Linked DNA regions of Homo sapiens: region 2 is linked to region 1. The links come from fine-mapping of genetic effects on gene expression. Tissue or cell type: whole blood. Region 1 holds a variant in brackets; the other region holds the start of a gene. All regions are shown on one strand. Distances are from middle to middle.

What was found. PIP is the estimated chance that this variant, and not a neighbour inherited with it, causes the effect.
Region 2: it holds the start of CLHC1, and the variant in region 1 is the best candidate, but not a certain one, in a credible set for the expression of CLHC1 in whole blood (INTERVAL, PIP 0.57).

The regions. Positions count from the first base shown.
Region 1 is chr2:55,198,531-55,210,079 of GRCh38, forward strand. It overlaps CLHC1 (clathrin heavy chain linker domain containing 1), which reads right to left. Exons shown (of 13, transcript NM_152385.4): 6 at 11,100-11,301; 7 at 10,874-10,986; 8 at 10,096-10,180; 9 at 7,740-7,846. Among named protein-coding and RNA genes, the nearest start is that of CLHC1, 28 kb to the right of the region's middle. The variant T/TAC (reference allele first, on the strand shown) is at 6,870.
Region 2 is chr2:55,221,966-55,236,360 of GRCh38, forward strand. CLHC1 (clathrin heavy chain linker domain containing 1) reads right to left here and starts at 10,328. Exons shown (of 13, transcript NM_152385.4): 1 at 10,258-10,328; 2 at 6,067-6,239; 3 at 270-528. The coding sequence starts at 446. RPS27A (ribosomal protein S27a) reads left to right here and starts at 10,723. Exons shown (of 6, transcript NM_002954.6): 1 at 10,723-10,743; 2 at 10,843-10,907; 3 at 11,398-11,452; 4 at 12,154-12,239; 5 at 12,866-12,997; 6 at 13,463-13,888. The coding sequence starts at 10,860. The coding sequence ends at 13,612. It also overlaps the pseudogene CDPF1P1. RefSeq lists a silencer at 1,434-1,813 and enhancers at 10,373-10,802, 10,823-11,002.

The DNA.
Region 1 (11,549 bases):
GCCGAGATCACACCACTGCACGTGAGCCTGGGTGACAGAGCATGACACCGTCTCAAAAAATCCAAAACAAAAAAAAGGGATAATACCAGAGAACTTTCCAAACCTAGAGAAAGCTATCAATATTCAAGTACAAGGTTATAGAACAGCAAGCAGATTTAACCCAAAGAAGACTCTCAAGGCATTTAATAATCAAACTCCCAAAGGTCAAGGATAAAGAAAAGATCCTAAAAGCAGCAAGAGAAAATAAATGACATACAATGGAGTTCCAATATGTCTGGCAGCAGACATTTTAGTGGAAACCTCACAGGCCAGGAGAGAGTGGCAGGACATGTTTAAAATGTTGAAGAAAAAAAACATTTACCCTAGAATAATATATCTGGCAAAAAATATCCTTCAAACACGAAGGAGAAATAAAGACTCTCCCAGACAAACAAGCTGAGGGATTTCATCAACATCATACTTGTCCCTTAAGAAATGCTGAGGTGGCCAGGTGCAGTGGCTCATGCCTATAATCCCAGCACTTTGGGAGACCGAGGTGGGAGGACTGCCTGAGTTCAGGAGTTCACAACCAGCCTGGGCAACATGGTGAAACCCCATCTCTACTAAAATACAAAAAACTAGCTGGGTGTGGCAGGGTGCACCTGTAGTCCCATCTATTTGGGAGGCTGAGGCAGGAGACTTGCTTGAACCCAGGAGGTGGAGGTTGCAGTGAGCTGAGATCATGCCACTGCACTCCAGCCTGGACAAAAGAGTGAGACTCCATCTCAAAAAAAAAAAAAAAAAAAAAAAAAGAAATGCTGAGGGGAGTACTTCAATCAGAAAGAAAAGGATATTAACGAACAATAAGAAATTAAAGGTACAAAACTCACTGCTAATAGTAAGTTCACACAAAAAAGGCAGTATTATAACACTGTAATTGTGTGTAAATTACTCATATCTTAAGTAGAAAGGCTAAAAGATGAACTGATCAAAAATAATTACTACAAAAACTTTTCAAGACATTGACAGTACAATAAGATATAGATAGAAACAACAAAAAATTAAAAAGCTAGGGGACAAAGTTAAAGTCTAGAATTTTTATTAGTTTTCTCTTTGCTTGTTAGTTTTTTATTTGTTTATGCAATCAGTGTTGTAATCAGTTTATAATAATGGGTTATAAGATATTATTTGCAAGTCTCATGATAACCTCAAATCAAAAAGCATACAATGGACACTCAAAAAATAAAAAGCAAGAAATTCAAACATACCACCAGAGAAAATCATCTTCACTAAAAGAAAGACAGGAAGGAAGGAAAGAAGGAAGAGAAGACCATAAAACAACCAAAAAATAACAAAATGACAGGAGTGAGTCCTTACTTAATATCAAGTGAATGTTAGCAGACTAAACTTTCCAATCAAAAGACATAGAGTGGGCCAGACACAGTGGCTCACACCTGTAATCTCAGCATTTTGGGAGGCCAAGGCAGGAGGATTACCTGAACCCAGGAGTTCAAGATCAGCCCAGGCAACATGGTGAGACCTTGTCTCCACAAAAATTTAAAAAATTAGCCAAGTGTGGTGGTGCATGCCTGTGATCCCAGCTACTTGACAGGGTGAGTGAGATGGTAGGATCACTTGAGCCCAGGAGGTTGAGACTGCAGTGTGCTGTGTTCATACCACTGCACTAAAGCCTGGGTGACAGAAAAAGACTGTCTTAAAAAAAAAAAAAAAAAAAACAGTGGCTGAGTAGATAAAAAAAAAAGACCCAATGATCTGTTGCCTACAAGAAACACTTCATCTTTAAAGACACATATAGACTGAAAACACAGGAATGGAAAAAGATATTCCATTCAAATGGAAACCAAAAAAGAGCAGAAGTAGACAAAATAGATTTCAAGACAAAAACTATAAAAAGAGACAAAGAAAGTCATTATATAATGATAAAGGGGTCAATTCAACAAGAGGACATAACAATTGTAAATATATATGCCCCTAACACTGGAGTACCCAGATACATAAAGCAAATATTATTAGTGCTAAAGAGAGAAATAGACCCCAATATAATAATAGTTGGAGAATTCAACACCCTCACTTTCAGCACTGGACAGATCATCCAGACAGAAAATCAACACAGAATCATCAGACTTGATCTGCACTATAGACAAAATGGATCTAATAGATGTTTACAGAACGTATCACCCAACAGCTGAAAAATACACATTCTTCTTCTTAGCACATGGGTCATTCTCAAGGAAAGACCATATGTTAGGCCACAAAGCAAGTATTAAAACATTCAAAAAATTGAAATAATATCAAGCATCTTCTCTGATCACAGTGAAATAAAACTAGAAATCAATAAGAAGAGGAATTTTGGAAACCATACAAATATGGAAACTAAACAATACGCTCCTGACTGACCATACACAGGTCAATGAAGAGATTAACAAGGAAATTTAGAGATTTCTTGAAACAAACAATAATGGAAACACAACATACCAAAACCTATAGGATAACAATGAAAGCAGTACTAAGAAAAAAGTTTATAGCTATAAGTGCTTACATCAAAAAAGAAGAAAAACTTCAAATAAACACCCTAATGATGCATCTTAAAGAACTAGAAAAGCAAGAGTAAACCAAACCCAAAGTTTTTAGATGAAAAGAAACAATGAAGATCAGAGCAGAAATAAATGAAATTGAAATGAAGAAAACAATTATAAAAATCAATGAAGAGTTTAAAAAAAAAAAATTGACAAATCCTTAGCCAAACTAAGTAAGAAAAAAAGAGAGAAGACCTGAGTAAATAAAATCAGAGATGAAAAAGGAGACATTACAACCAATACCACAGAAATTCAAAGGAGCCTTATAGGTTACTATGAGCAACTATATGCCAATAAACTGGAAAACCTAGAAGAAATGAATAAATTCTTAAGACACATACAACCCACCAATATTGAACCATGAAGAAATCCAAAACCTGAACAGACCAATAAGTAATGAGATTGAAGCTGTAATATAAGGTCTTCCTGAAAAGAAAAGCCCAGGACCTGATGGCTTCACTTCTGACTCTACCAAACATCTAAAAAAGAACTAATACATATCCTACTCAAGCTATTCCAAAAAATAGAGGCAGAGGAAATACTTCTAAACTCATTCTACAAGTCCAGTATTACCCTGATACCAAAACCAGACAAAGACACATCAGAAAAGAAAACTACATGTCAATAATTCTGATAAACATTGATGCAAAAATCATCAACAAAATACTAGCAAACCCCAATAACACATTAAAAAAATCATTCATCATAACCAAGTGGGATTTATCCTAGGGATGTAAGGATGGTTCAACATACACAAATGAATCAATGTAATGTATCCTATATCAACAGAATGAAGGACAAAAACCATATGATAATTTCAAGAGATGCTGAAAAAGCATTTAATAAAATTCAACATTCTTCATGATAAAAACCAGAAAAAAATCTGGGGATAGAAGGAATATACCTCAACTAATAAAAGCCATATATGACAGAACCACAGCTAGAATCACACTGAATGGGAGGAAACTGAAAGCCTTTCCTGTAAGATCTGGAACACAACAAAGATGCCCACTTTCACCACTGGTATTCAACACAGTACTGGAAGTCCTAGTTAAAGCAATCAGACAAGAAAAAGAAATAAAGGGCATCCAAATTGGAAAGGAAGAAGTTAAATTATCTTTGTTTTCTGATGATGTAATCTTATATTTGAAAAAAAAAAAAAAACCTAGCTGGGTGCGGTGGCTCATGCCTGTAATTCCAGCACTTTGGGAGACCGAGGTGTGCGGATCACCTGAGGTCAGGAGTTCGAGATCAGCCTGATCAACATGGAGAAACCCTGTCCCTACTAAAAATACAAAAATTAGCCGGGCCTGGTGGCAGGTGCCTGTAATCCCAGGTACTCGGGAGGCTGAGGCAGGAGAATTGCTTGAACCCAGGAGGCGGAGTTTGCAGTGAGCTGAGATCGCGCCATTGCACTCCAGCCTGGGGGACAAGAGTGAGACTCTGTCTCAAAAAAAAAAAAAAAGTAAAAGAAAAAAATCTAGAGACTCCACCAAAAAACTATTAGAGGCCAAGCATGGTGGCTAACACCTGTAATCCCAACACTTTGGGAGGTCAAGGCGGGCTGATCACTTGAGGTCAGGAGTTCAAGACCAGACTGGCCAACATGGCAAAACTCCGTCTCTACTGATAATACAAAAAAGTTAGCTGGGCATGGTGGTGCACACCTGTTGGCCCAGCGACTCGGGAGGCTGAGGCAGGAGAATCACTTGAACCTGGGAGGCAGAGGTTGTAGTGAGCTGAGATTGCACCACTGCACTCCAGCCTGGGTGACAGAGTGAGACTCATCTCAAAAAAAAAAAAAAAAAACTATTAGAACTGATAAACTCAGTGAAGTTGAAAGATACAAAATCAACATATAAAAATCAGTGCATTTCTATATGCCAACAACAAACAATCTGAAAAAGAAATTTAAAAAAGTAATCCTGCTTATAATAGCCACAAATTAAATACCTAGAATTAACCAAAGCACTGAAACAGCTCTAGAATTAACCAAAGCACTGAAACAGCTCTACAATTAAAACTATAAAACACGGATGAAAGAAACTGAAGAGGACACACAAAAAATGGAAACATATGCCATATTCATGGATTGGAAGAATCAGTATTGTTAAAATGTCTATACTACCCAAAGCAATCTACAGATTTAATGCAATCCCTATCAAAATACCATGAAATTCTTCACAGAAATAGAAGAATCAACTCCCAAATTTATATGGAACCACAAAAGACCCAGAATAGCCAAAAACCATCCTAAGCAAAAAGAACAAAACTGGAGGAATCACATTATCTAACTTCAAATTCTACTACAGAGCTATAGTAACCAAAACAGCACGGTAATGGAATAAAAACAGATGCACAGTCCAATGGAACAGAATAGAGAACCCAGAAACAAATGCACATACCTAAAGTGAACTCACTTTTGACAAAGGTGACAAGAACATATACTGGGGAAAAGACAGTCTCTTCAGTAAATGGTGCTGGGAAAACTGGATATCCATATGCAGAAAAATGAAACTAGGCCCCTATCTCTTGTCATAGAAAAAACCAAATCAAAATGGATTAAATATTTAAATCTAAGACCTCAAACTATGAAACCATACAAGAAAACATTGGGGAAATTCTCCAGGACATTGGTCTCGGCAAAAATTTCTTGCATAATACCCCATAAGCACAGGCAATTGAAGAAAAAAATGGACAAATGGGATCACATCAAGGTAAAAAGCTTCTGCACAGAAAGGATACAATCAACGAAGTGAAGAGACAACCCACAGAATGGGAGAAAATATTTGCAAACTACCCACCTAACAAGGAGTTCATAACCAGAATACATAAGGAGCTCAAACAACTCCATAGGAAAAAAATCTAATAATCTGATTAAAAATGGGCAAAAGATGGCCAGGTGAGGTGGTTCACACCTGTAATCCCAACACTTTGGGAGGCCAAGGCAGGTGGATCACCTAAGGTCAGGAGTTAGAGACCAGCCTGACCAACATGATGAAACCCCATCTCTTCTAAAAATACAAAATTAGCTGGGCATGGTGGTGCATGCTTGTAATCCCAGCTACTAGGGAGTTTAAGGTAGGAGAATCACTTGGACCTGGGAGGCGGAGGTTGTGGTGAGCCGAGATCACGCCATTGCATTCCAGCCTGGGCAACAAGAGGGAAACTCTGTCAAAAAAAGAAAAGGCAAAAGATTTGAATAGACATTTCTCAAAAGAAGACATACAAATGGCAACCAGGCATATGAAAATGTGCTCCACATCATTGATCATTAGAGACATACAAATCAAAACTACAATGAGATATCATCTCAGCCCACTTAAAACAGTAGCTTTTATCCAAGAGTCAGGCAATAAGAAATGCTGGCAAGAATGTGGAGAAAAGGGAACCCTTGTACACTGTTGGTGGGAATGTAAATTAGTACAACCACTACGGAAAACACTTTGGAGGTTCCTCAAAAAATGAAAACTTGGGTTACCATATGATCCAGCAATCCTATGATTATACCATATGATCAACAATCCTATGATTAATGCAGTGCTATTCACAATAGCCAAGATTTGGAAGCAACCTAAGTGTCCATCAACAGACAAATGGAAAGAAAATGTGGTACGTATAGGCAATGGAGTACTATTCAGTCATAAAAAAGAATGAGATCCTATCATTTACAACAACATGGATGGAACCGGAGGTCATTATGTTAGGTGAAATAAGCCAGGCACTGAAGGACAAACTTCACATGTTCTCACTTGTTGGTGGAGTTAAAAATAAAAACAATTGAACTCATGAACACAGTAGAAGGATGGTTACCAGAGGCTATGAAGGGTAGTAGGGGAGTTGGGTGGGGGAGTTGGGCTGTTTAATGGGTTAAAAAAAATAGTTAAATTGTTAAAATGGCCATACTGCCCAAAGCAGGGAAATCTACAAAGCAGGGAACTACAAAATCACAATGAGATACCATCTTACACCAATCAGAATGGCTATTAATAAAAAGTCAAAAGGCAACAGATGTTGGAGAGGATGTGGAGAAAAGGGAACGCTTTTACATTTTTGGTGGGAATGTAAATTAGTACAATCTCTATGGAATACAGTATGGAAATTTCTCAAAGAGCTAAAAATAGAACTACCATTCAATCCAGCAATCCCGCTACTGGGTATCTACCCAAAGGAAAATAAACTATTATATGAAAAAGACACCTGCATTCATTATGTTTATCACAGCACTATTCACAATAGCAAAGTCAGAGAATCAACCTAAGTGTCCATCAAGGGATGATTGGATAAAGAAAA[T/TAC]ACACACACACACACACACACACGCACACACACACACACACCACAGAATACTACTCAGCCATAAAATAAAACTGAACGCCATTATCCTAAGTAAAATAAATTAGGGCGAGAGAACTAGGAAGTAGCAGGAAGAGAGGGATACTGAGGGGCATGAGGGAACTTTTGAGTGATAATCTCATGGGTGTATGCATATGTCAAAACTTACCAAATTGGGCTGGGCACGATGGTTCACACCTGTAATTCCAGTACTTTGGGAGGCCAAAGCAGGTGGATTGCCTGAGGTTAGGAGTTTGAAACCAGTCTGGCCAACATGGGAAACCCTGTCTCAACTAAAAATACAAAAAATTTAGATGGGTGTGGTGGCACACACCTGTAATCCCAGCTACTCGGGAGGCTGAAACGGGAGAATCGTTTGAACCTGGGAGGCAGAGGTGGCAGTGAGCCAAGACTGTGCACTGCACTCCAGCCTGGACAACAAGAATGAAACTCTGTCTCAAAAAAAAAAAAACTTACCAAATTGTGTACTTTAATATGTACAATTTGTTGTATTATGTCAATTTACCACAAGGAAGCTGTGTTTTAAAAGGATGTGGAGCAAATTTGACAAAGTATTAACATTTATTAAATCTTGATAGTGAGTACATGGGTGTTAATGTTTCTCCATACTTTTCTGTATACTTAAAATCGTTCATAATGTAATTTAGAAAATCTAATCAAATCCCTAATGTTACTGCTAAGCAAACTGAGTAAATGGTAGAGATAGGGCTGGGGCCTAGATCTTTAGTCTCCCAGTTTAATGCTTTTTCTATTTTATGAGAGAAAAAGTAGTAAATTTTCATACATATATAAGGTTCAGAGAGAAATGCTTACCCTTAAATGTATTCATTGTACCAATGTTTCGAAGAATTCTTCTAGGACTGTTTGCTGCATAACAAGCTGCCTTTTCATATTCACCAAGTGAGATTAACTCATTAAACCTATAGCCATCACATTTTAAAATGCATTATAATGACACAAAGAAAAAGAGAAAAAACTGATTAGAAATGTTTAATACAGACTAAATATAGCGGCATAACGATATGGAAAAACAAAAAGGAATTCTAATAAACTATAACTAGAATCATTCACACTGTAAGATGTTCCTTGAAATCCTTCTCTAGTACTCTGTTGGGTTTTTTTTAAGTCTCAGAATAAAACTCCCACCTGCTAGCTGACTTTGAACATGATCCTAAACTTTATTCCTATAGCACTTACAGCAAGCCATAGAGGATGGAAGAAAGAACTTGAATTTATTATGAACTCAGATTTTTTTCCCTGCATATCATCTCCACATGAAAAAGTACTGGCATCAGAGGAAAGAAGGGCAATCTGCTTAGAAACATCGCCTAAAGGAAATATTAATTGAAGATAGAACCTACCAAATTGGGCCGGGCATGGTGGTTCATGCCTGTAATCCCAGCACTTTGGGAGACCGAGGATGGGGGATCACGAGGTCAGGAGATCGAGACCATCCTGGCTAAGATGGTGAAACCCTGTCTCTACTAAAAATACAAAAAAAAAAAAAAATTAGCCAGGCGTGGTGGCATGTGCCTGTAGTCCCAGCTGCTCAGGAGGCTGAAGCAGGAGAATCACTTGAACCCGGGAGGCAGAGGTTGCAGTGAGCCAAGATTGTGCCACTGCACTCCAGCCTGGGCGACAGAGTGAGACTCCGTCTGAAAAAAAAAAAAATGAAGCTGCCAAACTGGAGATCAAGAGGTGTCCTTGGTATTCAGAAGCCTATGTTGTTCTGCCAGGCAACAGGTTCCCAATCGAAGATTAGCACAAGAAGGAAAGATAATAGTTAAGATAACTTAAGCCTCTACTCCTCTTCCTATGGCAAAAGGTCTTCAAATCAGTCCTTACCTCACAATTAATAAAACTATGATAAACAGAAGTTACACAGTGTTGCAAATGAATGTGGAGCCCCAGGCGGAAAACCCACTAAAGTAATATTAAGCAAAATACATAAAACTTTCAATCTCAACAAGGGTTTTTCTCTCATATCAAACTGTCAGACTTACAGAAGCATTACAGTGTAAGGAAATAACATGAGCTTTTGTGCTCTGCCCAAAATTATATTTACCCCCTTCTTTTTACCATACCAACAATCCAATTAACAGTTGAAAACTGTTTAACATATAAAGACCAGGAATATTACATATGTTCATTACAGATAAGCGTCATAGCCTATGAATTAACCTCTTAAAGAATATAGTCTTACTATGTATTAAAAATGTTTAAAAATGCTCCTGCATGTTAAACACCAGGGGAGCAACTGTGAGGGGAAAAAAGGAGGGAAAAGGAATTGAAGATAGCAGGAATGATACACAGTAGGATGTCAACTGTAACAAACTTCTACAAAAAGAGCTGAAGTAAATACGGCAAAATGTTAATTTCTTGCTAAGTTGGTACACAGAATAACATTTTGTTAATGTTATTGTCTGTATTTTTATGTATACTTGAAATATTTGATGAAAGTAATGTTTGATAAAAAGTAAACAAAGTAAAAAAGAATATAGTCTTAAATCTCTTTAATCTTATATACTATGTATAATAACTTAAGTATTAGGGAGAAATATGCCTCCTTAATAAGTCAGGGGATAGAAGTAATGAGAAAGAAAGGACTGAATTGGCTAGAATAATCTGAATCAGGAAGACATTCTCAAAAACATTTTGTAACATCAGGTTGATAGCTAGGAAATGTAAGAAAAATACAGGCTGGGTTTCCCTTATCCTAAATGCGTGGGACCAGAAGTGTTTTGGATTTCAGATTTTTTCATATTTTGGAATATATGCATGTACATAATGAGATATCTTGGGGATGGGATCCAAGTCTAAACACAAAATTTATATTTCATATATACCATATACACATAGCCTGAAGGCAATTTTATATAATATTTCTAATAATTTTGTGCATGAAACAAAATTTGTGTACATATTGATCTATCACAAAACAGAGGTATCACTATCTCATGTCAGTGCTCAAAATTTTTCGGATTTTGGAGCATTTCAGATTTCAAATTTTTGGATTAGGAATGCTTAACCTGTATAAATAAAACATATCAACATTATAATCCTCTTATCTCCTCTGAAAAATCTCCTAGATTCCCAATCTGGTATGTTATTCACAAAGAATCTATGAAAAAATATAATTCTGAAAAATTAAAGCTTTTAAAATATTTGCCTTTCAATGTAGTGAAGCATAATTTCAGCTTCTTTTGCCCTGCGTGGATCATCTTCCATTAGTTCTTCAACAATGCCTTGGTCACCTGTAAATATTGAAAGTACTACTGGAAGATATTTAAGGTTACTTACCAATAGAAAACAATAAACATACATGTGTTTAATACCAACAGCTTATTGCTATGGCTCCTAACAGCAGCAACCTCTTCCTAAACTTAGTGGCCTCCCCGTCCCTTTCCTCTTTTTTTTTTTTTTTTTTTTTTTGAGACGGAGTCTGGCTCTGTCACCCAGGCTGGAGTGCAGTGGCCCTATCTTGGCTCACTGCAAGCTCCGCCTCCCGGGTTCACACCATTCTCCTGCCTCAGCCTCCCGAGTAGCTGGGACTACAGGTGCCTGCAACCACACCCGGCTAATTTTTTGTATTTTTTTTAGTAGAGACGGGGTTTCACTGTGTTACCCAGGATGGTCTCGATCTTCTGACCTCGTGATCTGCCCGTCTCAGCCTCCCAAAGTGCTGGGATTACAGGCATGAGCCACCGTGCCCGGCCTCCTCTTTATTTTGATGTACATTTTCAGGCATTCTGTCTTTGGCTCACCAAGTCTATTCTTTACTAATTATCTGTTAGCTGTTGAAGGAAGAAACCCATAGCGTAACAGACAACCAGCTGAAGTATGATCTTGCTTTATTTAAACTCAGCCTAAGAAAACCCCATTCTAACTAGCTAGCGAAAAAAATGTCTTCCATTATTGGTACTAATTTAAAAATATAGATAATCTACCTTGTAAATATTTGGTTTTCTGAATTTGCTCCACAAAGTCTTGAAATGGGCTGCTCATATCAGATTTTACCCATGAACTAAGTGCCTGTGAAATTATCTGCAGTCTTTGATGACTAAAAAGATAAAAAACGTCAATAACACACTGAGCCTAAAATCAAATGGTGGAATATTAGAATAAACACAAATAAAACTCCAAACTTTAAAAACATATAATCAACTTCCATACCAAAACTGCAATTTTTTGTTCAGATTTTCAGCTACATCTCGCCGTTTTAATAACACAATCATTTCTTCATCTAAATCAGCCTTCCTCTGAGCTGGCACATATTTTATCAACATAGCTTGTTTAATTTCTGCATATTTATCTTCAAGATGTTTCATGTATTTAGTGAGAGCATCTAGATTCATGGATTCTTGAAGAGTCATGCCTATGGGGAAAGGGAACAAATCAAACACGACAAGCCATGTGTGGGACGCTTGTGCTCAAAGAGCAAGTCTTAGAAAGACAGTTCACTATGTTAAGAAACAATTTAGAAATGATAGTATGTACTTATAGCTTACTGAACATAAGTAAAATTAGCATAAACTTGTGAATGGCTAGCAGGTTATTTATTTATTTATTTATTCATTTATTTAATACAGACAGGGTCTTGTTATGTTGCCCAGGCTAGTCTTA
Region 2 (14,395 bases), 25 kb after region 1:
GACTCTCTCTTTAAAAAATATATAAAGGAAACTTATAATCTGCTCTCAAGCTAAAATAACTGAAACACTCATTCACAGTCAGGAAATACAAATCCAGAATTGCATTTTTCCCATTCATGCCTTTCTGAGAAATTGGATGAACTTCTCAAAATCAGCAAATGGAATGTTATCATTCAAACAGTGGTGTTACTAAGGCAGGAATATTGGTTGTCAACATAGATCATTGCTATCCTCATGAAAACTTAATTGTCTTAAAAGCTTTATGATACCTTATCAAAAACATTTCGGTATATGATGTAATATTCATCAGCAGGTCCTTCCTCACTACAGCCCAGTCTTTCAGTTTCTGTAATTATGTATCTTTGCACACTTTCCAAAAATTCCTTGTCACTTCTACAAATGATAGGTGGGAGAACTGCATGTTTTCTTATTTGATGAACTGACATATTTGACAATCTGCACACTTGTTCACTGAAGAACAGCTAAATCTTGACCTGCTCTTGCAACAAAGCCAAAACTTTGATAAGCCTGAAAGAAAAAAAGAGCATCAATTAATATAATAATTTTTTAACTTAAGTCAAATATTGATCTAAAAATGTATTTTTTTTAGAAAAAAATTTCCTATCTGTCTCTGTGATAAATACTTCAACCTATGTATTAAAAGGTCTATGCTGCCAAGCGTGGTGGCTCATGCCTGTAATCCCAGCTCTTTGGGAGGCCGAGGCAGGTGGATCATCTGAGGTCCGGGAGTTCGAGACCAGCCTGACCAACATGGAGAAACCCCGTCTCTACTAAAAAAGACAAAATTAGCCAGGCGTGGTGGCGCATGCCTGTAATCCCAGCTACTCGGGAGGCTGAGGCAGGAGGATCGCTTGAACCCCGGAGGCGGAGTTGCGGTGAGCCGAGATCGCGCCATTGCACTCCAGCCTGGGCAACAAGAGCGAAACTGTCTCAAAAAAAAAAAAAAAAAAAAAAAAGTCTATGCTATTCCACTGCCATATGCTGCTGCTCTGGGACAGAAATACCAAACACCAGTCAATGAAGAGCTCTTCTCTTGCTAACTATGCACAACTCCTCTCACATGTATCATATAATCGATGGTTTCTTATGTATAATTCACACTTTCTAATAGAAGGTTTGGTATTTTATATTTATTTGTGTCATGTGGGAAAACTAATTTGTAAGCCTCTTGACACAAACAAGGTCAACTATTTTACGACCCCGGCGCTTATCTGGCCTAGCTTCACCCAGCACACAATAGCAATAAATAATGTATTTATTTTTATAATAAACTTTATTTTAATTCTCATCTTTAATATTAAAGTACCAAGCAAAAAGAGGTCCGGACTTCTGCTAAAATCCATCCCTCAATGATGTCAAAAGTAACAGTATTTTTCAGAGTATAGCTTTCAAGCAGCCGCATTATGCCGCTTTCAGTAAAGAATCATGGGCGGCGGCGGCCTGGCGGGGGCGAGCGCGCTGTGGGCCGGCCCCGCGCAGCCTCAGGGCACCTCCCGCTCGCCGGGACTGAGTTCCGCGCCGGCGTGGCCTGCTGTGCTCCGAGCGCCAAGGGTCGGCGCGACCGCTCTCGGCTTTGGGGACCGGATGGAGGAGCGGCGTGTCGGCCTCGGGGGACGGTTCCCCCGACCTCAGACGGCTCTGGGGCGAGGGAGGGCGCGCGGAGGCTCGCGGGGACCACTGGCGCCCCCGGACCCGCTCAGCGGTCCCTGCTCACAGGCACCGCCCCCAGGAGCCTCGGCAGGGGCCTAGGACGCCCCGGTGTTCAGAAGAGAAGCAGGGTCAGGTTCACGCACACCCGCGATCGGATCGTAACTTTTTTTTTTTTTTGAGACGGAGTCTCGCTCTGCCGCCCAGGCTGGAGTGCAGCGGCGAGATCTCAGCTCACTGCAAGCTCCGCCTCCCGAGTTCACGCGATTCTCCTGCCTCAGCCTCTTGAGTAGCTGGGACTACAGGCGCCCGCCACCACGCCCGGCTAATTTTTGTATTTTTAGTAGAGATGGGGGTTTCACCATGTTGGCCAGGCTGGTCTTGAACTCCTGACCTCGTGATCCATTCGCCTCGACCTCCCAAAGTGCTGGGATTACAGGCGTCAGCCACCGCGCCCAGCTGATCGTTAACCTTAAAGTCATTGGTAACCCATGCTTCCTGGAGTTGCATTTGGGGTCACCCAGCGGCGAAGCCCATACAACTTGATACGCCCTTACACACAAGGCTCAGTTCAAGCGAAGGGAGGTCACAGCCAGGAGCCAGGGGCCAGCTGATAATGTACTTGATTCCACAGTCAAAGGAGCTGGATGGCGTCCCATGCAGAGTGCCGTCCTCTGGGAGTGTTTGAGTGTGAACTCCACGCCTTGACAGCTCCCTCCTGCTACTTGGGGCAGAAGCTCCCCCGACACCCAGTGGATGGTCCTCCTGGAGGAAAGCTATGTCACAAAGGATCCCTTCACCTCCGACAATGTCAGATTCCTGGTCCTTAGCTGGCGCTGCAGTTTGTGCAGCAGGCTGTGTGGCCAGTGTACTCGGAGTGATCCTGGAGTCTGAGAAGTCCCTGAGCATCTGCCACAGGGCGACATGCACACAGGGGAGCTGTATCAACAGCCAAGGGGGATGAGATGGGCCAGGGCGGGAGGAACCCCCGCAGTGCGGCGTTGGGAGTGTCTGAGGCGCATGGAGGAGCTGGCGGTCCAGGAGAAGCTGAGAAAGGAAGACTGGAAAGGAGTGCAGTTTATTCTACTTCAAGAGATTCTGCCTCCCTTGTGTCCATGAGAACATCAGTGCTTTTCCTCAGGAAATTCAGCAAGACTTGGAGTAAAGCTCCGTCAAAGAGGCCCCCCAGCCAGCCCGGTTCTCGGACATTGAGTGCAGCCGGGGCTGGGTCAACTGGCAGCACCCTGCACGGAGCTCCTGGGCCAGCCTGCGCCAAGGATGCTGCTGAGCCAGGAGCCGCTGTGCCCAGCCTCTTTTCTGGACCACTGCGAGCAGCACTGCAGCCCAGGGGAGCTGGAGTCCAGCTTGTAGCAGCCACAGGCCCAGGGAGCTGTGCCGAAAAGGTAGCCCAAAGGCAGACAGATGCCAGACCAGACAGAGCCGGGAACCCGGCCAGGTGCCCCCGCATGACCCTCGGGGCCGAGGCCTAAGTGAGTGCTGCTCAGATGTGACTAAGAGGGATGACCTCCTTCAGCGAGAAAGCTCCTAAGAGGCCACCTGCAGGTCCGTGTGGGGGAAGACGCCATGCTGTCTCGGGACCATGGCGCAAGGTAGGTGGCTGCAATGGTCTGTAAGGAAAATCACTGACAGCAGCTGCCTTCTGGAGCCAATCTGGAAGGTCTAGAGCGGGATAGAATTACTTCCCATCCTTATGTGATGCTTGGAAAATGGTTTAACCTTGATCATGTACTATGTTTATAATTAAAAATCCAAAGAACCAGCTAATGTTTGAAAAAGGAATCTTCCACTGAAACATCTGGGTACCTGACATTCTCCCAGGGCACTCTGGACCCGGCAGTGGTTGGGGTCTCCCGGGAAGCTGAGTGCTGGCTTACAGCCTCTCTGTAAGCTCTGGCTTCATCTCGGGCCCCTCCAATCTGTCTCCCCTGACCCCAAGTCAGGAATGCTGTGGGCTTCCTGCCCTCACCCCGCACCTCATGACCGTCACGCTGCCTGCCTGCTTGCCCCCTGCCACCTCGAATTCAGTCCTGGATGCCTTCGAAGCCCAGCCCCACTGCGTGCCAGGGGGTTCCTGCAGCATCCCCTCCTCCAGGCTCCCCATCTCCCTGAAGCTTCCAGGTAGCAGTTGGTGGGGCACTGATCTGTGAGCTCTGGAATGTCTGCTTAGATTTCTGAGAGGCAGGAACTGCTGTCTTTGTAAGTACTCAAGGCCAACTGTCACGTGATGAAGGAATGAATAAAGAATTTTTACTGAAAGGCCGGGAGCGGTAGCTCACGCCTGTAGTCCCAGCATTTTGGGAGGCCGAGGCGGGCGGTTCACGAGGTCAGGAGATCGAGACCATCTGGCTAACATGGTAAAACCCCGTCTCTACTAAAAGTACAAAAAAATTAGCCGGGTGTGGTGGCGGGCGCCTGTAGTCCCAGCTACTCAGGAGGCTGAGGCAGGAGAGTGGCGTGAACCCGGGAGGCGGAGGTTGCAGTGAGCCAAGATCGCACCACTGCACTCCAGCCTGGGCAACTGAGCGAGACTCCATTTCAAAAAAAAAAAAAGAGAAAGAGTTTTTACTGAAAAAAAAAAAATTGTCCAACTGAAGTTGGATACAGAAGTTGGTGCCTAAGATTTAGTCACATTAACTTCAAACAGAACTCTTGGCTTGCTTAATAATGGCTGGCAAGGCAACATCGTAACTTTTTCCCTAATTACAGAAGCATACTCCTGGTATAAAATTCGGAAAATATAAACCAGACAAAATTAATGAAATAAATATCTATTTAATATTTTGGAATATTTCCTTCCAAACATTACAAAACTTGAAATTAAACTCTATATTCAGTTGTGCATCCCATTTTTTTCACTTAATATTAAAAGCACTTTTTCATGTTGTTAAATCGTTTTTTAAAACATGACTTCTAAAGCTTACACAGTATTTCATAGTATGATGTTCCATTAATTTATTCCCCCATTGTCAGATATTTTCACTATTTTTGTTTTGTTTTGAGACAGTCTTGCTCTGTCGCCCAGGCTGGAGTGCAGTGGCACGATCTCAGCTCACTGCAACCTTCACTTTCTGAATTCAAGTGATTCTCCTGCCTTAGCCTCCCGAGTAGCTGAAACTAGAGGTGCAGGGCACCATGTCTGGGTAATTTTTTGTAATTTTAGTAGAGATGGGGTTTCACCCTGTTGGCCAGGCTGATCTTGAACTCCTGGCCTCAAGTGATCAGCCTGCTTTGGCCTCCCAAAGTGCTGGGATTACAGGCATGAGCCACTGCACCTGGCTGCTATTTTCACTAATATAAACAATGCCATGATAAGTAAGTGTCTCAATCAATTGTATCATGTTCTGGCAATATAACTGATACCTGATTATGTGAATAACATATACAGCCTGTAAATACTGCCCATAGCCATATACAGAAGAGGAGACACCAAAATAATTCTGAAGATTAAAAGGCCAAAATTATCTTCATGTTGATGAACTGGATAGCAAAAAGTCAATTTATGAATTAATATAAAGTAGTTCCAGCAAGGGAATAACTCATTAATTAATCAAGTTTTCCTAAATGAGAAATACATTTGTTTATTCATTCATTCAGTCAGTATTTATTGAGTGTCAACAAAGCACCAGGCACCATTTCACAGCTAGGAATTCGGCAATAAGTAAGATAAGGTCCCTGGCTCCTTGAAGCTTATGATCTAGTAGGGGAGACAAACTATAAATAAATAATTTCAAATAGTAAAAGATAACCAGGCGCGGTGGCTCACGCCTATAATCCCAGCACTTTGGGAGGCCGAGGCAGGCAGATCACGAGATCAGGAGTTCAAGACCAGTCTGACCAACATGGTGAAACCACATCTCTACTAAAAATACAAAAATTAGCTGGGAGTGGTGGCACACGCCTATAATCCCAGCTACTCAGGAGGCTGAGGCAGGAGAATCACTTGAACCCAGGAGGTGGAGGTTGCAGTGAGCCGAGATTGAGCCACTGCACTCCAGCCTGGGCAATAGAGCAAGACTCCATCTCAAAAAAAAAAAAAAAGTAAAAGATAAAAGTCAAAAGAGGAAGAAACGGGTGTTATCATTAGAGAGGGGGTAGTGACATTTGGACACCAGTGGCTTCCTACCGTATTACCCTTAGGATAAAATCCAAGTTCCTTTACTTGGCCTATTAGTGCCCTTCAGAAACTAATGACTCTTTTTCTTTGACCAAATTTACTCTCTTCATGTCCCTGTCCTTTGCCCCATATCCCCATTCCCACACCCATGAACTTCCTCTCTTACCTTAGGATCTTACATAATTCTCTCCCCCTCCCTGCAGACCATCCTCCTATATTACCCCCAACCCCCAAAACACATACATACTATCACTTTGATTCACCTGGCTTTTACTCTTTCTTCAGCTTCAGGAAAGCTGTCCTGGATTCCCTTAAAATTGGTCAGATGCCACTGCTATGTTCTCCCATAATACTGTGCACTTCCTCCATCATGGTATTATCCTTCCACCACACTGCCTTAGAGACTTCCTGTTTATATTCTGTCTCATCTGTTAGGCTGTAAGCGTGACAAGATCAGGAAACAAAATGTTCTCTTTCCCCATCATCCCTCCTCTACCATATGCATTCAAGTGCATAATGCAGTTTCTAGCAGAGCAGTACTCAAACATATGTTTGCTGAATAATCAATAATCACTGAACAATAATCTAGTCTATTCATAAGACATTGGACTTGTGGTGCTCTCAAACCAGAACACAGCTAAAGGGATTGTTCCTTAACATCTACAAAATGCCATTGAGTTACATAAACCAACCAAGATTACCATTCATTCATTCATTCATTCATATTAGACATTTAGGGATGTGTTGACAAGTCACAAGGGTTCCCAGTCAAGTGTTCCAGGTCTAGTAAATGAGCCACTGCTACAAAGCAGAAAAGGCAGTGTGACAGAGGTAAGCACAATAGGCTACAGAAGGCCAGAGGGGCATCTCATCAGCCTACGGAAGGGGGCAAGGAAACATTAGGGAAAACATCTAGTAAAACAAAATCTAGGGCAATGCTTAAGTTGTGCTACATTTATTTATTCAATATTTGGGGGACACCTATTGTTTGTCTGCCATTATTCTAGACAATGGAGACACAGTATTGAACAAAACAAAGTCCCTAATCTCACAAAGGTTACATTCATGTAGAAACAGACAACACACAAGAAAAAAAATAGTCCAGGCACAGCGGCTCATGCCTGTAATCCCAGCACTTTGGAAAGCCGAGGCAGGTGGATCACTTGAGGTTAGGAGTTTGAGATCAGTCTGGCCAACATGGCAAAACCCAGTCTCTATTAAAGAATATAAAAATTAGCTGGGCGCAGGGGCTCACACCTATAATCCCAGCTACTTAGGTGGCTGAGGTATGAGAATCATTTGGACCAGAGAGGTGGAGGTTGCAGTGGGCTAAGATCATACCACTGCAATCCAGCCTGGGCGACAGAGGGAGATTCTGTCTCAAAAAAAAAAAAAAAAAAAGAAAGAAAAAAATTATATATATATAGAAATATAGTATGACAGATAGGGGTTAAGTTGTATGAAGAAAAATAAAACAAGGTATGGGGGATAGAGAGTAAGGAAGGTGGGAGGATACCATTTTCTATAAGGGCAGTAAGTCAGGAAAGACAAAAGAGCTTACTGATAAGGTGACATTTCAGAAATCTGAAAATAGCAGGTCATGTAGATTCCTGGGAGATGAGTGGTTGAGGCAAAGAGAGTAGCCAGTCCAAAGGCCTCAGGGTGGGACAACACATTTGAGGAACAGCTAGAGGGCCCGTGGGGCTAGAAGAGAATGAGAAAGGGAGAGAAGAGATGAGATCAGAGAGGTAACTGCCAGATTATGTAGCATGTAGGGTCTTGAGGGCAGAACTACTATCAGCCTAGGGGGTACCTTTGTGCGGTTTAGAAAAAGAGGTCCCTTTCTCTGGGCAGACTTGGCAAGAGGAGCAACACTGGACTGTGGCCTCTACTTGTTCCAGCACTGGAGCAACAGCCTCACTTGTAAGAATTTAGGCTTTCCTCTGAGTGAGATTCGAAGCCTTTAGAGGCCTGTGTGCAGAAGAGTGGGAGAGCTGACTTAACATTTTAAAGAATTGTTCTTGGCCAGGCATGGTGGCTCATGCCTGTAATCCCAGCACTCTGGGAGGCCAAGGCGGGCAGATCACCTGACGTCGGGAGTTCCAGACCAGCCTGACCAACATGGAAAAACCCTGTCTCTGCTAAAAATACAAAATTAGCTGGGCGTGGTGGCGCATGCCTGTAATCCCAGCTACTGGAGAGGCTGAGGCAGGAGAATCACCTAACCCGGGAAGCAGAGTTTGCGGTGAGCCAAGATTGTGCCATTGCACTCCAGCCTGGGCAACAACAGCGAAACTCCATCTCAAAAAAAAGAAAAAAAAGAATTGTTCTTGTTGCTCTGTGGAAAACAGATTATAGGACGCAAGGGTCAAAGCTGGAAGTGCTGTTACGAAGCTACTGCAATAATCAAGGCAAAAGATGATGGTGGCTTGAATCAGGGTGCTAACAATGGAGGTGGTAGGAAGTGTTCTGCATATATTTTGAAAATAAAGCCAAGATCTGCCAAGGTAGATAAGATGTGGGATATAAAAGAACAGTCAAGGATAATCATAAAGTTTTTGGCCTTAGTGACTGGAGAAATGGGAATTGCCATATATAAACATGGGAAGAGCAATTTCATGAGATTAAGTGTTTGGGGCCTGTCCATTAGAGATGTTGAGTAGATAGCTGGATATGTGAAGATGAAGTTGTGACATATCTGTGACATATCTGGTCTGACAGATAAGTTTATGAGTCATTTGCATATGATGATACTTTAAAAGTTATTAAACAAAAATGAGATAACCAAGAAAATGCAGACAAAGCAGAGGTCCAAGGACTGGGCCTTGGGGATACTCCATGGTTAGAGGTCTTGCAGATCAAGAGGAAGCAGCAAATGAGCCTGGAAAAGAGCCTCCAGGGTGGCAGAAAAACTGAGAGGTGAAGTCTTTGAAAGGTTTTCAAAGAGAGATGGAATGAGCAACTGTGTCAAATACTGCTGACAGATCAAATAAGATGAAATGACCATTGAATTTAGCAACATGGAGGTCATTAGTGACCATTACAAGAGCTATCCGATCAGAATGGTGGGGACAAAAGCCTGACAGGAGTGGGTTCAGACAACGGAAGGGAAAGATTAGAGACAATATGTACAAGCAACTCTAGGAAATTTTGTTGTAGAGACTAGTTGGCGGACTAGGGGATGAAAAATGTTCCAGGAGGCAGGGCGTGGTGGCTCACGCCTGTAATCTCACCACTTTGGGAGGCCAAGGAGGATGGATCATTTGAGGTCAGGAGCTAGAGAACAGCCTGGCCAACATGGTGAAACCCCATCTCTACTAAAAATACAAAAATTAGCCGGGTGTGGTGGTGGGCGCCTGTAATCCCAGCTACTCGGGAGGCTGAGGCAGAAGAATTGCTTGAACCTGGGAGGCGGAGTTTACAGTGAGCCGAGACCGCGCCACTGCACTCCAGCCTGGGCAACAGAGCGAAATTCCGTCTCACGAAAAAAAAAAAAAAAAGTTCCAGGAAGAATAAACGACTGGATTCTTCAGAAATGCCAAAACACGGGAGGGCATAGGTCAGGAAATTAAATTAGCTTCATTTACTAAAATGTAGAGTAATGGGTTTAGCAGATTAGGTTGTAAGGAAGGCAGAGGCTGAATGTCATTCTAAGAAATTTGAATTGTATCCTGAAGGTGAGGTATAAAATAATAACACACATTTACCTTTCAGAATGAATATTTTGGAGGCAATAGTGAAGGTGGGTTAGAAAGGAGGAAAGACTGGAGAGAGATAAGGAGTTAGATTCGGAACCCCTACAAGAGAAAATTAAGGTCTGAATTTGGGGATGGGGTCGCAGAGGGCAGAGGATGAAGAAATAAATACAGAAGACATTAGAAAGGACTCTGGTTTGTGGAGTGGAGAAAGGACAGGGAGAACTTGCTTCTAATTGGCCTCCTTGCCGGAAGAAGCACCCCATACATACTCCAAAAACTTCCTCTCAGATCCAAGACTCCCAATGCCCAAATTTGGAAATTCTACAACTAAATAACCATTCTGCAGGTTTCTTTTCCGTACGGCTTCACTTTAAAATTTGAAAACTCCTGAGATTTTTCAACATATTAAAGCGTGTCACACTAAGGAGTGACACACAAGACCCAGACTCTTCCCTAGGCTGGGAGAGACTCGGCGGTTGAAAGCAGGGAGGCGCTACAGGAGAGAAAGGGCTGAACCCCCGCTTCCGCAGATTTCACCTATTTTTCAGTTTGCCTGGAGCAGGCCACGCAAATTCCCTTCCCTTGAAGGCCCAAGGAGCGTCTGGTAGATTGCTGATTCTCTGCCCATCACCGCTTCTGGAAGTGAGTGAAGGACACCTTTCGTGCCCCGCACCCTTTGCCCCCCGCTTAACATTTGCTCTAGTCACTTCCGGCCCGTTCCCACGCTCCGGAAACCATTATTCCGCTTCATCCTACCTCCAGTCCTCACCTGAGTCCTTTTCTCCAAACACCGACTTCAGTGCTTAGAGATAGTAACTAGGGAATCTGGGAGGTGGAACTGCATCTTGGGACAAGTAGTCCAAGGTAGAAGAAAGCAGTGGAGAACTACAGTTCCCAGAATGCACTTCCATTTCCTACCTCTTCCCCAAGAGGCCCCCCTCGACCTCCTTTTAAAAATTCTCTTAGCCACGTTGATTGTACGGGAAAAGCCTTTTTAAAACATCTTTTACGTTGCTTAAACCTACAGTTTCGAAAGCATTCCGAAGGCTAAAGTGAGAAATAAGCCCAGGCTAGGGAGAGGAGAAACGAAGTTCACGTCCTAGTCTGGCACCGGGTTGGATTGTCGCTGGGACGGCAGTCAGGCATTTGGTGTGGTCGCCTAAGGGGTGGGTCCTTCGGCGGGAGCTCCGGGAAACCCCGTGGGCCTGCGCGGCGTTCTTCCTTTTCGATCCGCCATCTGCGGTGGGTGTCTGCACTTCGGCTGCTCTCGGGTTAGCACCCTATGGTGCCTTCTCTTGTGATCCCTGACCTAACCTGTCTCTTCCTTTTCCTCAACCTCAGGTGGAGCCGCCACCAAAATGCAGATTTTCGTGAAAACCCTTACGGGGAAGACCATCACCCTCGAGGTACGGGCCGGGTGGTCATGAGGAAGCCAAGGTCCGAATAAGGTCCTGAGGTGGATTTTAGGACCGGCGCTGCTTTCCATGTCTTAGACCATGATTCCGAATTTGGGTTCTAAAACTTAAGCTTTGAAATGAGTACCTTTTGCTGAGCAACGACCTAGAGGTGATTTTCGGTGGCCAAAGGCTGGACCTGTCTCCTCTCGAGGGGTTCCAGCTAGTTAGTTAAAACGGAGGAGCTGCGGTGGGGAAGGAGACGCTCTGCCCGCCGGGTGCGAGCACGTGTGGCCCTGCGGCCGCCGCCCGCTCTGGGCTGGGGAGATGAAGGTGCTTTCCGGTAGCCGACTTGGGAGGTTGCCCACTGGGTGGGTAATAGGTCTCTCGAGTAGGTCTCAGCCCTGTCGCTGGTTCGGTTCAGTGGTAATTGTCAAACTAAATGAGTTCTGCTGTAGTTCCTTAATGTGTAACCAACATGCTTTCACTTTAACACTCATAGGTTGAACCCTCGGATACGATAGAAAATGTAAAGGCCAAGATCCAGGATAAGGAAGGCAAGTAGTATTTTGTAGTTAAGAAAACTTAACCTGCGGAGACTTCGGCCTACCTGTAGGTGCTAGACATACCTGCTCTTGGTGATGGGGGAAGGGGTCAGATTGACAAAGCGAAATACTTGTGGAATAACACAATAGACATTGGTGATCGGGGAGCACAGTACCTAGATTGGAATCCTTGAGGTGTATTTCACTTGCGTGAATTTGGACACTTATTTATTTATTTTGTGTGAGATGGAGTCTCCTCTGTCGCCCAGGCTGGAGTGCATTCGCTTGTCCCGGCTTACTGCAGCCTCCGCCTCCCGGGTTCAAGTGATTTTTGTGCTTCAGCCTCCCTATTAGTGGGGATTACAGGCGTGCACCACCATGCCTGGCTAATTTATTGTATTTTTAGTAGAGACTGGGTTTTACCTTGTTGGCCAGGCTGGTTTTGAACTTTTCACATCAAGTGATCTGCCCACCTCGACCTCCCAAAGTATTGGTATTACAGGTGTCAGCCACTGCAGACAACCAAGTATTGTCCCTAATATTAAATGCGGTAAAATGTGACATGTAAAGATTTAGAACCATGCCTAACCTCTAGTAAGGGCTTATTGTCAGCCTTTAGTATCATGTATTTGATTAAGGGGTGTTACCTTATAAGTCTGGAGCACATCACAGGCTTGGTGTGCTGTGACTTAATTTTTGTTTTTTGTCATTAGGAATTCCTCCTGATCAGCAGAGACTGATCTTTGCTGGCAAGCAGCTGGAAGATGGACGTACTTTGTCTGACTACAATATTCAAAAGGTCTGTCTAGGGGAAGAGCAGCCTCTTTTAAAAAAAAAATGTTATTTTGGAAATTTTTTATTTTACTTTTTTTGAGACAGGCTCTGACTCTGTCACCTAGGGTGGAGTGAGTGGCGCAGTCACTGCAACCTCCACCTCTCAGACTCAGGTGGTCCTCCCACCTCAGCCTCCTGTAGTTGGAACTATAGGCACCCGCCACCATGCCCAGGCTGGTCTCAAACTCCTGGGCATAAGTGATCTTCCCACCGTGGCCTCCCAGCGCTGGGATTACAGACGTGAGCCACTCCATGTGGTGTATTCTGGACATTTTGACACACAAAAAGGGAAAATGGCATTCGAATAGCAGTAGATTTTTAGGTAACTCCTATACTGATACTTGAGAAGCACTGCTATAGTTCTCCCATTATGAATTTTGCAAGTTGTATCCCATGGTGTAATGTAATGCATTCTTTAATGTCCCTATAAACTGTCAGTTAAGAATCTGATACTTTATTGGGTTTGGGGGCTGCAAGATTCCCTCAAATGTTATTGTGTGCTGCTACTGCTTTTAATTAGAAAATGCATAATGTTGGGTGTGCCCATTCTTAGTGGAATCATGAAAGCTTGCTTCATTCTTCCATTAACAGGAGTCTACTCTTCATCTTGTGTTGAGACTTCGTGGTGGTGCTAAGAAAAGGAAGAAGAAGTCTTACACCACTCCCAAGAAGAATAAGCACAAGAGAAAGAAGGTTAAGCTGGCTGTCCTGAAATATTATAAGGTGAGCCAGTTAAAGGGCAGAATGTCAGCAAAGTCTTGGCTTATTTGGAAAACTTAATCTTTATAGTACTTGTCAATATTTTCTTGGACTTAAACACCCAATATTATCCCACTTTGGTTTAAATGAGGTATTCTGGAAATGAGAAATTCAGACTTTCTGGGGTTTTTCCTGTTTGGTATTTGAAATCAGTTATGTAATAGGGTTCTGAGTTTAAAGTCGGGTTTGGGTTCAGGTCTTTACCTTTGTCTACCACTTGCAAAGCTGGCCTTTAGTGTTCAAAAGTCCCAAGACTTCTGAATGTTTTCATTGTAGCAATGATAACTGGTGAGAATTTAGGGTGCTTTGGTTTGTAAGCACCAAAACCACCAGTATTACACAGTTAAAAGCTTAAATATTTTGAGTCACTTAAATTAGACTTCAGAATGTGTTGTAAAATTATCTTAACAGCAGGTTTGTGCTTTTCAGGTGGATGAGAATGGCAAAATTAGTCGCCTTCGTCGAGAGTGCCCTTCTGATGAATGTGGTGCTGGGGTGTTTATGGCAAGTCACTTTGACAGACATTATTGTGGCAAATGTTGTCTGACTTACTGTTTCAACAAACCAGAAGACAAGTAACTGTATGAGTTAATAAAAGACATGAACTAACATTTATTGTTGGGTTTTATTGCAGTAAAAAGAATGGTTTTTAAGCACCAAATTGATGGTCACACCATTTCCTTTTAGTAGTGCTACTGCTATCGCTGTGTGAATGTTGCCTCTGGGGATTATGTGACCCAGTGGTTCTGTATACCTGCCAGGTGCCAACCACTTGTAAAGGTCTTGATATTTTCAATTCTTAGACTACCTATACTTTGGCAGAAGTTATATTTAATGTAAGTTGTCTAAATATAAGCCAGTTTGTGTTTCTGTCCATTTCTTGACCTCAACACAACAGACATTTGGGGCCAGGTAATTCTTTGTTGTGGGGTGCCTGTAATCCCTATGCTTTGGGAGGATCACTTGAGTGTCCAGGAGTTCAAGAGCAGCCTGGGCACCATAGCAAGACCCCCATCTCTGTAAAAAAAAAAAAAAAAAAAAAAAAAGTAGGCTGACTCCTATGGTCCTGCCTACTGGGAAGTCTGAGACAAAAGGATCCCTTGAGCCCAGGAGTTGTAATTAATTATGCATTGCATTTCAGCCTGGACAAAACCCTGCTTCCAAAAAAAACAAAATGCATCCTCAGTCTCTGGGTGTTTCAGTGGAATGCTTGCTGTCTGTTGTACAACGCTTGGGAATTTAATGTTTGTTCAGGATGGATCCCTATAAAGGAATGATTACTTATTTGTACTGTTAACAGTAAAAGACAGTTTAGTTTCAAGCAGGACTGGGGTAGCCTATCTTCCTTCGGAGCTCAATTCA